Linked DNA regions of Homo sapiens: region 2 is linked to region 1. A link means that fine-mapping ties the variant in region 1 to the expression of a gene that starts in the linked region. Tissue or cell type: whole blood. Region 1 holds a variant in brackets; the other region holds the start of a gene. All regions are shown on one strand. Distances are between the middles of the regions.

What was found. PIP is the estimated chance that this variant, and not a neighbour inherited with it, causes the effect.
Region 2: ZMAT3 starts here. The variant in region 1 is fine-mapped to the expression of ZMAT3 in whole blood (INTERVAL, PIP above 0.99). The same link has a PIP of 0.9 or more in monocytes.

Annotation. Positions count from the first base shown.
Region 1 is chr3:178,959,802-178,967,910 of GRCh38, reverse strand. It overlaps LOC124906307 (a long non-coding RNA gene), which reads left to right. Exons shown (of 3, transcript XR_007096179.1): 2 at 2,415-2,466; 3 at 6,348-7,949. Among named protein-coding and RNA genes, the nearest start is that of KCNMB2-AS1, 100 kb to the right of the region's middle. The variant G/A (reference allele first, on the strand shown) is at 4,458.
Region 2 is chr3:179,066,990-179,075,098 of GRCh38, reverse strand. It overlaps ZMAT3 (zinc finger matrin-type 3), which reads left to right and starts at 3,290. Exons shown (of 6, transcript NM_022470.4): 1 at 3,290-3,504; 2 at 7,290-7,616. The coding sequence starts at 7,347. RefSeq lists silencers at 2,864-3,273, 3,414-3,563.

The DNA of each region.
Region 1 (8,109 bases):
CCATATGTAATCTCATTTTATCCTAACAACTATTTGGTGACATAAATGAGACAGGTATTTCTGGACCTAATAGCTGAGGAATCTCAGGTTCACAGGACTGCTAAGCAGTAGAGGGATGTCTAACATTCATTCTGATTCCAAGGTCTGATTTTTCTAGATTGAAGTTATTTGTTTAGTTTTGAAGGTGATTAAAAGACATTTAAAAAGAAAAGCAATTAGCTTTGATTTCAGTAAAGGTTATGGGTCTTGTAAAAGGTCAAAATCACTTTCTGTGGTTGAATGAGATGAAAAGAGGTTGAATGAAGTAACAAAGATAAGAACTGGTGCTACAGAAATAATGAGTCGTTATCAAAACACCTCAGTGTCTCGGGGAAGAGCGAAAGAAGCACTTTGGAATAACCAAGAGAAAGAATTAATCAATCTGATTTAAAACTGAATAATACCTTCTTTATTTTTCAGTGTTAGCACTGAGCTTTTGCTGAAAATTCACTTTGCTCTAAAATGGCCTAATTTTTCCTTTTAATTTGCATTTCCTTCCTGCCCAGATGCGACTGGCAGCAGCCCAGTGGTAGTTCCACTAAAGCAACTGTGCTACAGCACCTCAATTTGGATCTCAGAGCTGTCCTTTTACATTTGCTTCTTTGCATAATTTGTCAAACTTTGTAAGTTGCACAGCAAAATTCTGCCAATAAAGAACAGGAAGTTTGGGTCATCCTTCTGGGTTTACTGTTTTATATTTGTTTTTTCAGCAACTGGAGTCAAGCTCTGGTGAAAGTATTAACACATTAGCAGTTTGGAATTGCGCTCAAGGCTTCTGTTCAATGAATATGAAAAAACTGAGCAACAAGGAGACTTGGGCACATTATTTATACATTTGGTGAGCTCATTCACTCGCCCAGGGAAATCAGGCAGCACAGCCGCCAGCCCAAGGTTAATTTTGTTTTCTTCTCAGCCAGGAACAGGGTGTGCTATTACACAGAGAGAAATGAGGACTTTTTAATTGGCAAAGAGGAACTTCTGCTGCATAAAGAGGTATTCCAATCACTGGAGGTCAACAGAAATTCTTTCAGATTTTAAAATCTTGCTGTGTTCAAAGTTTAATGCAAAATCCTTCAAATTGCTAGTATTCAAAAACCCTGCATTAACTGTTTAGAAACAGAAGAGGGCACCTCATCATTCCTTATGCCAAATTTATTTATTTATTTTTTTAAGCGTGAACAGGAAACTGGCTTGCGAATGAAAATGAAAAACCACTTCCTTTTCCTAATGAATGAATGAAAAGATTCTGTTAATATTTTTAAAAGCTTAACTATGAGTAGAAAAGCTGTATTCACTTTCTAGTTTCAAGAGACCTCAGAGTTTAAGTTGGAGACTAGCCATAAAAAGTTTAATTCTATTATAAAGTGGCTGTCAAATACAATGCATTTAGATTTTAAACCAAGAGCCGCCTGGATATCCTTCTTTTCTATTGGCTAGGTAACCAGTTAATTAGGGTAACTCCTCCTTTCTTCTTCTCCTCATGTTTGAATCCCAGTTTTTCTCAGAATTAAATCTTTCTAAGCATCAGTGAATCTTTTAAATTTTATGCAAAATGTGTTTGTGTATTTTTCTAGAGGAAGTTTGGAGTTTTAATCAAATTATCTACCCTTTCCTGGGTTAAAACTCCAGGAAGTTTCCATGTTTAATTCTACCTTATGCTAATTGAGATTTTACTCTATATTCTGTCATAATAAATACTATTAGAATAAAAACCTTAGGACTTTTCTAATAATTTAAACCATAACTGTTATGGAATGTAGCAACAAACCTTTTGATTGTCTTTGATATTCTTTGTATTAAGTTTTAGACAGAGTCAAAAGGAAACTTTTCAGTCTAACCTAATCACTTTAATTACTGGTCCTAGAGGGTAGCACTGATTTGTCCTGGGTTACACGAGCAGTGAGCATGAGAATTCAGAAGTAATAGACCGGTCTTTTACCTTTACATTCTTTTAGTCTATATTCTTTTCTCTGAGTCATGCTTGGTTGAAAATTTGCACTGATTCATACATTTATGGAATCCTTATATTGCTCTGCTCACACATATGAGTTGCTTTTTTTTTTTAAGAGTTGAGGGTCTCACTATGTTGCCCAGGCTGGAGTACACTGACTATTCACAGGTGAGTTCATCGCTCACTGCAGCCTTGAACTCTTGGTTTGAAGTGAGCCTCCCTCCTTAGCCTCCTGAATAGCTGAGACTATAAGCACATGCCACCATACCTGGCTTCTGTGTTGTTTTGTGTTTTATACTTTGGTAGATAGTTTTATTCTCTAAGTGAACAGTTTAAAAGCAGCAAAATGCATGTTGTTTCTTTTCCAAGTTGTCTTTGTATGTAAGTTCCCCTGATAAGCATTATGTCTTGTTCACGTCTCCAGGTCTCTTCTTCAGCCCTTGGACACAGTGTCATCCCTATTGGAGTCAATAAAGGTATGGCATGACATATGTATTCTGGGGATAGACTATTTTCACAAAGGACAGTTGTCAATTTCATTAACACTGTACCATACAGGAGTGTTTCTAGGGGGCAGTTGCTTTCTTATAATAATAATAGCAAACATGTATATAGTGTTTACTACTTACAAGACTGGGAAACACACAAACCAACAGACTGTTCTGTCCTACTATACTCTCAGCACAGAATATTTTTGTGGCCAGATGTGTACGGGTCTTTACACATATTTCAAGCAGCTCTCCAGCAGATATCAACTGGGTCTTCCACAATTCAATTCGATTTTGACACTGTCTACCTGAATAGCCCTTACAAGTTGAAGGCTCAGTCCCATACGACTGCTCTCATTTCAGACGCCAATCTCAAGTCTGGGCCCCCCATATTTCTGACTGACCAGCAATAAATTGGAGGTTCCCATGACCCCCTCTCAGGTTCAGTAATTTGCTAGAATGGCTCACAGAACTCAGGGAAACACTTTGCTTACAATTACCCATTTATTATAAAGGGCAGCACTCAAGGACAGCCAGATGGAAGAGATGCACAGGCTGAGTAGAGACGTGAGGGGCATCCCATCCTCCCAGCTCCTCTACACATTCAGCAACTGTGAAGCTTGTCAAATCTTGTTCGACAGCTTTGGAGAGCTTAATCTCTAGACCCCACTCCATTTCCTGGAGGTTGGTCAACAAGGCTGAAAGTTCCAACCCTCTAATCCCTTAATCACTTGGTCTTTCTGGGGACTGGCCCCATCCTGAGGTTATCTAGGGTTATCTAACTCACCTCATTAGCATGAACTCACGTGTTATTATAAAGGGGATCATTATGAATAATGAAAGACGTTCCTATCACTCAGGACTTCCAAAAATTTCAGAAGCCCTGCAACAAAAACTAGGAACAAAGACCAAATATATTTCTTATTATATCACACAAGCACTATTCTGGGCACTTAATTTCACTCTCAAACGACCCTATAATGTGGATACTATTATTATCTGCCTTTTATAGATAGAACAATAGAATCTCAGAGACATTAAGTAATTTACCAAAGATCACAAAATCCGTAGGTAGTGTAGGAGTGAAGGGAACGCTTCATCTCTGTCCACTGAGGATTTGCTGAAAATGAGCTGATAAAAGGCAGATTAATAGAAGAAAAAGGCATATAAAATGTATTCAACATGCATAAACACAGAAGCTACACACAAAATATGAGACTTAAGGAGGAGTCAGATGTTTGATTTTTAAATGTTGTCTTCATAGAGGAGAGATGTATGGACATAGAAGGCAGACATTATTTTGTAAATGATTCTCTTTGGAAGCTGGATGACAAGGTTCCAGGACGGAGAGGGGCAGAACTTCACAAGAACAAAGGTTGTCTTATTATGAAGATAAAGTCCCCAGGTAGTCTCTCAGAGCTGTCCTCAAAATAATATATGAAAAGTCTGTCTGGTTGTAATCATGACCCCGTCTCTTCTCCAGTGGTTAATCTTTCCTGGTTATTTGATGAGATTCCTAGGTAAGAGGTCTTAAGAAAATTGCATTGTCTTAAGAAGGAAAATTTGTTAGTCAGATAAAGAAATTCCAAAGAGGGTCCCTCTTAGTTCTTTGGGAAAGAGGATCAGAGGCCTAAGGAGGCAGGGGTCAGAGGGAGGGGGCTGGAGGTAGAAGGTTAGAGAGAACTTAAGGCTGCTTCTCCCGGCCAGCATGTCAAACCACCATATTTTGGGGCATCGCTTTTTGAACCCTAACAGTGGCAAAGTGAGGATTTGAACTTGAATAATCTGACTCTAGAAGAATCTGAGCACCTCCCCACTATAGTAGGTAATCAATTGACCTTTGGCCAGCTTCTTGATCATCTCTGGACTAGGCCAATCTGATAAGCAAGAACCTTGCAGTCTTGAATTATTTTTATATCAAGAGATTATTCGGTTCTAATCTAAGGATGAAAACAGACACAACAAACTCAAATGCCTAT[G/A]GGGGTACCGGCAAGTAGTGTTAATGAGTACAGAAGACTGGGTGAAGGATAATCAAAAGGATAATCTTAGTTTCTACTTTTCCTTTCAATTTTTAATTCAAAATGTATTTAACATAAAGACATTTTTACAGAAAAATATTTTCCTACCACAAAAAGAAAAATAATACAAATGAAATAATTGATGATAGCTGACATTCATCGTCAGCATTAGGAAGACAATAGAGGCAGGGGGACTGTAAAATATTGGAAATTACTTGCACTGTCTGAAAAGAAAAGTCATTATGAACTATCACCAGATTCTTTCTCAAGAAAAGGCAGGTACTCATATTTTTGTGTAAAATATGTAGATTTTGTCAGCTCAGTGTTTTAAAAGGTACAATGAGAGCTAAATAAAGCCTATTTTTCAGCCAGAGGTTACTGGTTTGTAGCCTCTGGAAGAAAGGGTATCTATCTTGTAATTGTGTTCGTGGGCATGTGCAGGTGAAAGAATAGATGGGAAAATAGATAGAGTTATTTTGTACCACAATAGCCTGAAGTCAATAGTGAAAGATTACATTTATCATCCTTTAACTGGATTGTATTATAAGTAGCAGTGGTTTTCAAGTCAGAGAAGTAAAAGGTCTGGAAACTGATAATAATGGGCTTATAGATTTATAAAGTAAAAAAAGAACTTCCTAAATATTTAAAATGAATTGATATAATCTATGGACAATCATAATAGGTGAGCCTTTTTCTCTGTGTGTACAGGGTAATCTTCAATTGTAGCAATTTGCATCTTGATGGATGGGTTATTTTATCTAGAATTTTGAACTCTTCCTTTATTCTGTAAAAATACAGGTTTAGGCAATTCTACTTTTCTCTTTTACTATGAGACTTTGAGAAAATGTAGACAACAAATATGCTTAAAGGGAAGAAGAAACTAATTTGTTGTAAATTTCTGCTCCATGTAGTCCCATCCTACCTGTGTAGAATGAACATTTCTGGAGACTTCCCTGCCTCTCTCCTTTCACTGATGACAGTCCAGCTGCAAGTTGCAATGGGGCAATGGCTCTTTTTTAGTTAGTGTCTAGAAATTGGGACTTTCAGAATGGTAGAGTGAAGAATATAGCAAATCCTCTTCCTCTCAAAATAATAATAACACTAAACAAGACTCTAAAAATCAACCACTTGAGAAATCTCAGAATTGACCAAGGACATTCAGAAAATTGATTAGTGTTTATTTAAGAAGATCTACTAAACTCTGGGTACAAACAATGAGAGTCTGTGCTGTATTAACCTGGGCTGCTTCCCTTCTACCTCCCACAGTCCCATCATGTGATAGCTTGGACAGAATAGGGCAATTCCTACTCAGCTAAGATGAATTTAGCTGCTGGCGGGGGCTGACTTGGTTTGGAGAGGGGAGCAGAAAACCCCACACCCTCGGGTGTTTGTTATCACATATGGTTGGCAAACAAATGTTGCAGCTAGCCCAACATTATGATCCTGGTTTTGGTAAGAAGCAGAATACCAGCAAGAAGTCAGCAAACCAGTGAGAAATTTAACAGAGAGATAGCCATAGTGGGACTTGGTAAACTCTTACTTATCCATGATGATTTGGAAGGCTGCCCAAGGCTGTGCACATTCTCAGGAGTTATCCACAAATCCTTGGCTGAACATGAGGGCTTCAGCCAGAAAGGTCCAGGGGGAAGTAAAAGCTGGAATAGGCTTGTAAACAATGTGCTTGGTATACTGGGTTGAATATTGTCCCCTGCAAAGATAAGTTCAGGTCCTAACCCCTGGTACCAGTGAATGTTACCTTATTTGGAAATAGAGTCTTTGCAGTTGTAATTAAGATTTTTGAGATAAGTTCATTCTAAATCACCCTAAATCCAATGACTGTTGTCCTCATAGGAGAACGGAAAGAGAGATTCAAGACACACAAAGAGGATAAACATGGAGTTGAAGGCCATGTGAAGATGGAAGCAGAGACTGGAATGATGCATCACCATCAAGAATTGCTGGCACCCACAAGAAGCTAGGAGAGAGGCGTGGGACAGATTCTCCCTCTAAACCTCCAGAAGAAACCAACTCTGCTGACACTGTGATTTCAGACTTCTGGTCCTCACAACTGTGAGAGAATTCATTTCTGTTGCTATAAGCCACCAAATTTGTGGTAACTTGTTCTGCAGCCTTAGGAAATTAACACATTTGGTGTGTTAATTAGGTTGATAATTAGGTCAACTTCCCATAAGTGAAAGCCTGTGGGAATGTTGGGCTAAGAGACCTATTTCTGATTTCTGGCTCCACAACTTATTAGTTTGTGGTCATAAACATTTAACCTCTGTGAACCTCAGTTTTCTTATCTGTAGAATGGGCTTCCTTGAAGGAGCCTTCTCCTGAATCCAGTCTGTAAAAAACTTTTGTTCTCTAGGCAAACTTTCCCTTTATCTCTACACTTAGGCCCTGTGTTAATTATTTTTGCTTATCTTTGATTCTATCAGACTGAACAAATTCTCTGAGGGCTGAGATTATATGATGTTTACCTTAATGGTAATGATACCTATAACACAGCAGGTATCCTCAATCCATGCTTATATGGTTGTTTGGAGGAGTAAGTCTGGTACTTGGTAGCAATGGTTATCTATGATAATTATTTATGACTGTTTTTAAGATTTGTAGTCTTCTTTTTCATTTTTAGTCACACATCTGTACATCCCTCAGGGAAAAGGCAGAATTTAGACTGTTTTTTTGAGAAACATGTATACTTAAGCTCGTGGAGAGGTTCAAGGAAAATGCTGTAGGTGAAGGATACAACAGGAAATGAGCGTGGTCTGCTCACAGGATGCTAGGAGCCTATCTGCATAGAGGGGAAGCTTCATTCCTGCATAAAAAGATGTATTCTTAGGTATTCTTAGCTGTATTGTAAGTTCCCTTTCCCTTAAAGCATGGTATGCAAACTCTATAGTATAGGATCCACATTTTTGCACGTGTTTCCTTTTTGTTAAACTTATTTGTTTATATACATGACCTCAACATGTTTGTGGCCTAGGGTCATGTGTGGTGAAACTAAATGGGATCACAGATCTCAGAACTATGGCCAGACCAGCTGTCCGAATCTGGGATTATCTCCATCTATAAATAGTGACTGGGCACAAAATCAACTAGCAAAATTAAGGGTTATAGGGCTTGGGTATTTGGGGAAAAAAAGAAAGGAAAGCATGCCAAGAAATCCAAGTGTTAGAAATTAACCCTCCAGGAACAAAAGCAGTGGAAAGCTATAGGCAACCGCAATTGACAGCAATAAATCTCGTCAGGAATGGAAATGTATGAATTGGTAAAAAGGAAAATATAAGGTGTTTTGAGATGCTAAACTCCCTCTGTATCAGAACTGTGCTGCCTGTTTTTGAAAAAATAATTCAAAGGATTTCACTCTTTAAGGGTATTGCACATGAAAAATTGAAATCTTTATATTCATAAAACAACTGCATGAATAAAATTAGCATTTAAAAGGGAGTTCTTCACATCCCATGCTCATGGATGGGTAGAATCAATATTGTGAAAATGACCATACTGCCAAAAGCAATGTGCAAATTCAATGCAACCCCCATCAGAATACCATCATCATTCTTCACAGAATTAGAAAAAAAATTCTAAAATTTATATGGAAAGAAAA
Region 2 (8,109 bases), 110 kb before region 1:
TTGAGATCCTGTTCTTTTTCAAGAGAGAAACAAATTAGTCAATTCTACATGTATTTCTATTACCCACAAATCTCTCCTGTCTCCAAGTCATTTCTGGCTAATATCTATTCACTTCAAAATGATCTGCTTCCCCTTATTTTTCTGAGGATAACCCTAAAATTTGGGGTGGGGTTGGGTGAAGTGGGGAGGCAGGTGGCAAGAGGAAGTAGACATCAGTGCAAACACGCCTTGGCTTTGACCTCAATAGGCGATGTCTATTTTTTCTCTGCTATCAGATCAGTGCTCTGTTCATTCAGTTCTATCCTTCCCCTTTCCGACCTGTAGGCTCATCAGCCCCCTACAGCTGTCAGCTCCCTTGAATAGTCTCTAATGCCATAAATACTAAAAAAAAAAAAAAAAAAAGTTTAGGGGCATTCCTCTGGCTGAAACAGTTCAGGCTAACATCCTACTCTCTTTTGACTTATTGAGGCAAAACCCTAGACCTTGATTGCTTTTCTGATCCCCACTGGGAATAGAGCTCAGATGCCCCCAATCTCTAGATCTTCACACATGTGGGAATTGTATTATTTCTAGCTCCACAGTTTCTTTCAAAGGAATCCCAACGACTGGGTGTGTGTGGCTGGTGGGTGGGTGGGGATTTATAGGCCTTTCTTTGGGACATACACCAATATCTCTGGGGAGAGAAAATTGGTTCCCCCATCTTTGTGGCAGATTGCATTATTGTTTACAATTAACCACACAACCCCCACTCCAAAAAAATTACAATCCATGCCCATTGCCATGTGATTTGCCTATGAAAGAAGTAGACTTCTCCACTTACTTGGGGTTTGGCCATATGAAAGACCTTGGCCAATGGGATTTGAGTAGACATGTCATGAGACATTAGAGAAGCAGCTTTAAGAGGCTTCACAAGTTTCTAACAGCTTTCTGGCTCTTCCCATCTCCCTTGAGAATTGCCAAGTTCTACATAGGGGCAGCTTCTTCAGCTTGGGCACTGGATTGAGGAGACCCATGGAGCAGAACCTCAGCTGACCCAGCATGTAATACAAATAAGAAATAAACCTTTGTGGCCATCAGCCATTTTTTTTTTTTTCAACCGCAAAAGTGATGAATATATTGTTTGTGGCTTTTTTTCCTTTCACCTCATGTGCTGAAACTCATGAAGTCCAGCCAATTCTAAACTACAAACTCTGACTTATGAGACTACTGTCACTGCCATGAGCTTCAAATATCTATTACACAAGCATCAGATTTGCCTTTTCTTTCTCCCCGAGGCAGGGAAGGAAATGCCCTAGCTGTCTGAGAAGAGTATGTGAGCAGAGAACATGGAATTGTTCAGATTTTCATCCTGATGGACAAGAACACATCAAACTATCAAACATAAAACTTGAAAACTCCAAGACATTTATCCTTCCTGGACTCAAGGTATTTACAGGGCAGAGGAAATATCTCTTAAGTAATTATAATGTGGGACAACAAATAGTGTGTCATCAAGGTGTGCGGAGAAAAGTGCTGTGGGACCTCATGAAAGAAGAGGCCTGGAAGGACAGGTAGGATTTGACAATTCAAGGGGAGGGGAGAGAAAGCATTTTGTATTCAAGATGCAGACAGAGCTAAATTACAGAGGCAGGAAATGAAGGGGCATGGATGGGGGTGTGAGTGAAATGATGAGGGGAGACTGGTGGAAGGTCAGATCGGAAAGGCTCCGCAAGGCCTACTTGTGGTCCTAGATAAGGAGTGTGGACTGTGAAGTTCTAAGACTGGCTAAAGACCATATAGAAAAGGGGCTGGAGAGTGGATTTTAGCAGCATTTATTATTTTAGAAACAATATAGCCCTTTAAAATAGTGACACATAAAGTAAATGTACCTATACAGCTGGAAAAACAATTCAGGTGATGGATTACTCTCCCCAAATGGCTGGTGTACACTGTGTGTATATGTTTGTACTTCATATTCATTGTACTTATGAAGTCTTTTATGGTTTGTTGTTGTTGGTATTGGATTGGTGCATTTTTCAGCCAAAGAAACAGCCTTGATTTCCTGCAGTTGTTTCCCTACTAATAGGGCACATCTTACTATACTTAGATCTCCTTGGCATTTTAATTCGTGTTTTAAAAAATAACCACACAATAATGCAAATGTACTTAATGCCACTGAACTGTACTTTTTTTTTTTTTTTTTTTGAGACGGAGTCTCGCTCTGTCACCCAGGCTGGAGTGCAGCGGCGCGATCTCGGCTCACTGCAAGCTCCGCCTCCCGGGTTCACGCCATTCTCCTGCCTCAGCCTCCCGAGTAGCTGGGACTACAGGCGCCCACCACCACGCCTGGCTAATATTTTTGTATTTTTAGTAGAGATTGGGTTTCACCGTGTTAGCCAGGATGGTCTCGATCTCCTGACCCCGTGATCCACCCGCCTCGGCCTCCCAAAGTGTTGGGATTACAGGCGTGAGCCACCGCGCCCGGCCTGTACTCTTAAAGTAGTATATTTGTTATCGTTTGCCACACACAAAAATAATACCCCAGCAGATCTTCATACGAGTTAATTTACGCTATAAGTTTAGAGCCGGAATTTCCTCAGCTCATCACTCAGTGTTAACATTGAAGATGTCCAGGTTGGTTATGAAGGATGTGACATCCTAGCGTTGGCCACTCTTTTCCTGGTCCTTCCTGTCTTGCAGGTGAGCCTCTGGGGGTCAGGAGAAAGTCTCCTCTATCTCCTGCTCACTTTCGTGTAGGGGAGGGAAGGTGTGTGTGTGGGTGGGTGGGGGCGTTTTGTGTGAGGGAGGCCGATACTGGGCAGGCAGCCACGCTCTTCTTCCTCCATCCTGGGGCGGAAGTGGGGAGAGCAGCAGTTTAAAGGTTCTGTTGCAGCAGTTTAAAGGATCCACTCAGCCGCCTTAACCGCCAACCAGCAGGCTAAGGGAGGAACAGAATGAACAATGTTTGGATCCCAATGACTGGAGATGAAAGTTGCAAAAGCTCTGCCCAGGCTTCTACCAAGGATTAACTTTCCAGGGCATCTGCTGAACTGCTCTTCGGGGCTGTCTGCTGAGATTGGCGGCGGGACCCTCCCGCCTCTCACTCGTGCCTTTGTTCCCCACGCCGGCCTAACCCCGCGCCCCTGCGCTCGCGGCCAGGGCACCTGACCCACGCGCCGCCCGCCGGGGATGCGGGAGCCGCCACTGCTACCGCTGCCACCGCTGCCGGGCCTGCTCCGCCAAGCACATGCGCAGTGGCGACGCCGAGCCGGCGCCCTCAGTCTCCTCCTCCACCGCCTCCCGGTTCCGCAGTCACTTCCTGCAGCTGTTTCCCTGTGGGTCGGGTTGGACTGACTTTTGACAGTCAGCCTTCGGCTGCGGAGGGGGCTCGGCGGCGGCCGGCGGAGAAAGTTGCTCCGAGAAGAGGCTGGGTCGAGCTGGGCCGAGCCGGGCGCGCAGGGCGGGCGTCGCGGGCGTCCCGGGCGGACGCGGCGCGGAGACTGCCGGCGCGTCCCGGGGGTTCCGGTAAGTGCGGGCGATTGGGAGCCGCGGAGCTTTCAGGACGAGCCCCTGGAGCGCCGGGGACTAGCGGTTCCTTTCCGATGCTCTTTCCATCTGCCCTCCACGTGACAGGGCTTGCGCTGCTTCTATTTATCAGTTTGCTTGTTTCAGGCATTTCACGTGGACCAGGTGGATCATCTGTGCGTGCAGCTGCCTTGGCCCTCTCAGTTGCCCCCGCCCCGTGGGAGTCGGGGGATTCCATCCTTCGTGATGGCATCCATACCGGGTTGAGGTGCGTGTGTGGGTTCGTGTGTATGCATGCACATCTTAGGAATGTAAGGTGGATGTGGGCGACGCTGAACTGTCTGTAGCTTTGATTCAAATCTGTAAACAGTTCTCTAGGATTAGGAACCGTCACAGCGGAGACTGAAAAACATTCGCCAATTCACCAAGGCCTCTTCCCCAGTTTTCTGCGTTCTTTTGAGCCTTCTTTATAGGATACACCTTGCCTCAAGTGATTATTATTATTATTTTTTTTAACTTTTCTCCCTCTCATTCCTTCTTGCTGCGTTCTGATGACCTCTGAGTAATGCTCGCTGCCTTTCCCTCATTTCCAGAATTCCCAATTACAGACTTACCTAGTTTGCTGAGGTGCTCCTAACCTGTTCCTTTATTCTATTCTCTTTCCTCTGTAGATTTCTCCAAATGAGACAAGAGATTGTCTTTAACACAGTATGTGAAGAGTAGGCCCCAGTCCAATCATTAAAACTAAGTATGCTATGACAATTAATTTTCTTTAAACAGGGTACCTTGTGAAGCTTTGATTTTCTTTAATGTCGTCTTAGCTCCTTTCCAAACCAGGACATTAACCAGCATAAATCCTTCATTTATGCCATCGCAAGCATCAAAGTGACTGGTTTTTAAGATTTGAAGAATATTTATGCCAGTCTTCAAATTAGTCCCTTTTAAACCAATGCAACAGTTGAACAGATCTGAGTTGCATGTTTTGGGTCTCTGTATTCCATCATTCATGCATTCACTGAAGACTTGGTTTTATTCATTTTAAGATTTATATTTTATACTAATTTTTGTTTGCAAATGTACTAATATTTGATGCAATTGTCATACATAGATTTTTTTGAGGAGTCGACATTGTGTTGATTGTTAAATATAACAAGAAATAAATTTGGGATATCAAGCTACTCTTTAAAAATTGTAAAGATCAAATGTGATAATGGGTAAATCTGTGTTTGGCAAGAATTTTTTCTTTAAATCAGGTAACTGTCACCTCTGGTAGGAGGCCTTTTGTGCCTCTGTTCTTTGAGAAGGATCTTTATTTTGAGGGAAACCTGTAGATAACACTGGGGGAGACACATGCTAGAATTTCCTCAAGTGAAAGTGAGCTTTCATAAAACAAGTCCAGACATGCCTAGGCAATTGGTAGCATTTGATTTTCTGTTTATATTGCTGATTTCCTTTATCCAGAGGTTTTGACACCCCCCCCCACCTTTTCACTAATGAACTAGCAGAATGTTTGTGGCAATTTGACATCAGTAGCTTTTCAACATTATGAATTATTATTATTAGGTAGTTAAACTTTTTAAAAGCTGTTCTTTGTCTACTTAGTTCCGTTTTCTAAAATGACCATATCTGTCTTTGCTTTCTGGACTATCTTTGCTTGATTCAATTAAGAGAAATAATACCATTACAGAGAACCTGACTTTTTAAATGTTAAAACTCTATATTGCTTTTCTTTTATGTTCCCAGAGATATGGGCAGTACACTTCTGCTTAAAAATTAAATAATATTATCATTTTTCTAAATTTTGTGATTAATGAGAAGTATTGTTAAATTCTATGACTAATACTTATGCACTTTGTCCTTAACTACATTATTTTCCCATCACGCTGATTTCCTTTGTTGCCTCCCCACCCCAAATTTCGTCTGAAAGTTGTTACTTGATTTTCAGGTGCTGTGTAGTTATCAAATATGGTAAAATAGACTTTAACTTTTCAAAATTTACTTGATTCATTTTAGTAATTCTATTATTGCCATAATGTACACATTTCCATTGCAGATGGAAAATTTCAGCAGCTTAAAATAGCCATATTCTATTGACCAAGAGAAGAGGTTTTAATAATACTGTATTGAGAGAGTGGAGGGAATTGTGGATTTTGAAATAAGGATTCTAATTTGGGTTAATTAGAATCTTGGGAACTCAAAGGGTGTACTGTGGTTCATTTTGAGACACTCAGGGTTAGACGGCGCCATCTGGGGGGGAGGCAGGAGACATTATGGATAAAGATTGAAGAGGGAGAGGAACATTTTGGGTCTTTTCTGAGGGAATTATAATAGAGACTATCAGTTATTTGTTAAGAAGGAGGAGGGAAATAGCCTCAAGATTGAGGAACTGGAATTATACTGTGGCTTATGGTGGTGTGATCCATTACTCCATTGGACATTTCCTTGATACCTTATTTTGTGTAGGTAATTTACCTAGAGAAGGAGGAAAAATTTGGGTTTTACAGGGGCTGATGAATATAATCTAAGGCTGTATGAGGCAGGGCTGTAAACTCAAGAGCTCACAGAGAACAGGCAAGTAACAAGTACAGGCAGCAGCTGAGTGGGGACTGAGGTGTCCCAGAGAAGGCAGGCCTCGCTAGAGGGCACAGTGCCTCTGAGCACTAACTAGCTAATTGCGTCCCATATAGGAATGTGGGCCAAGTGATGCCAGATCATCCTTTTTCAAGAGAAGCCATGAATCTCTTGATTTTTAAATGCTAACAACTAATTCGACTTAAAAAAATGAAAACAAAACTGTATATTCCAAACAGCACATCTGTGGCTGTATGTGGCCCACAGGCTGTTTGCCACCTCTGCTATACATTTGCTCAACTACTTAAATATTGCTAGTTGATCAGAAGGAACATATTTTATTTATTTCTGTCATACTTTAGGCTACTCCTAGAGTTCCCTGAAATTTTAGCTAGTTCTATAAGTGCTTTAAGAATTCTGCAAGATGATATTCTTTTATACACTCTTTTTGATATTGGTTGGTTGGAAGATATGTTTGCTAAGATTTTTAGCTGGTGGTCTTTTTTTTTTTTGAGTCACAGTCTTGCTCTGTCACCCAGGCTGGAGTGCAATGGCACGATCTCGGCTCACGACCACCTCTGCCTCCCCGGTTCAAGCGATTCTCCTGCCTCAGCCTCCTGAGTAGCTGGGATTACAGGCACTCGCCACCACACCTGGCTAATTTTTGTATTTTTAGTAGAGACGGGGTTTCACCATGTTGTCTTGAACAGGCTGGTCTCGAACTCCTGACCTCAGGTGATCTGCCCACCTTGGCCTCCCAAAATGCTGGGATTACAGGCGTGAGCCACCACACCTGGACAGCTCGTGGTGTTTTTGTCTGTGCATGATTATCATTAAGAGTGTTTAAGTGTAAGTGTGCCTGAGGGAAGGGGTCTGGACTAGGTGACATTTGATGTCCATTTCAGCCATGTGACTTTTAGATTTAGCCGTGGATGCAATGCTGTTAATGTTCACGGGCCAAAGGGATAGCAGTTGGAACTGTGCCAAGCAAAATAAAGCCAAATCTATAAAGCCATTCTCAGTGGAAGAGCACCGTGTTAACATGAATTAACAGGCAGGGGAAGTCTGCTAAATGAGGCCAAAGGAAAGAAGTCCCAAAGATGGGTTTGGAGAAGTAGAAGAAAGGGTCAGATTATGTTGTCATTTACATGTTATCTTGCTGAAGTCTGATTTTCAAGTGAGTTTTTTTTTCTGTTTTTTTGCTGTTGATTCAGATTTGAAGACCTTGCTTCTCATCACCCACTGGATTATGCCCCAGGCTTCCCTACCCAATGATCCTCTTGCAACACGCCGTGCTTCCTCCACCTAAGCAGCCCTCACCCTCGCCTCCTATGTCAGTGGCCACCAGGTCTACAGGAACCTTGCAGCTTCCACCACAGAAGCCTTTTGGGCAGGAGGCTTCCTTGCCTCTTGCAGGGGAAGAAGAGTTATCGAAGGGAGGGGAGCAAGACTGTGCCCTGGAGGAGCTATGTAAGCCCCTGTACTGCAAACTCTGCAATGTCACCTTGAACTCTGCACAGCAAGCCCAGGCTCATTATCAGGTAAAGGGAGAAAAGAAAACCAGGCATTGAGTAGGGTGAACATTTCAGGGCTCTGGCTATTTAGCAGTTGTCTCTCCAGATATGACTGTGCCTGGAATACCAAGATGGCTTAGAGAACAACTAACTATGAATTTGTTTGATTAAAAGCCTTATGTTTTTACTTTAAAAATAAGTATCACTTTTTGTAGACTGGATCTCAACCTGTTACACTAAGCTGTGTGGCATGCGATAGCTTACCAGTCTTTGTAGGCAAATGTAAATGATCTATGCTGGCATCTGAACCTGTAGTCTTAAGAAGAACAAGTATTTAAACCACTATTTACCAGCCTGGGTGACAGAGCGAGACTTTGTCTCAGACAAACAAAAAAACCCATGATGTACCGAACTCAATTCAGTGTAAAATTGTTTAGAAGCTAATATAATTTGCATCATTTCGAGGTGACCTCTGTGCATGACTCTTATGCTTTCCATTTTTGACTTCTAACTCTTATAT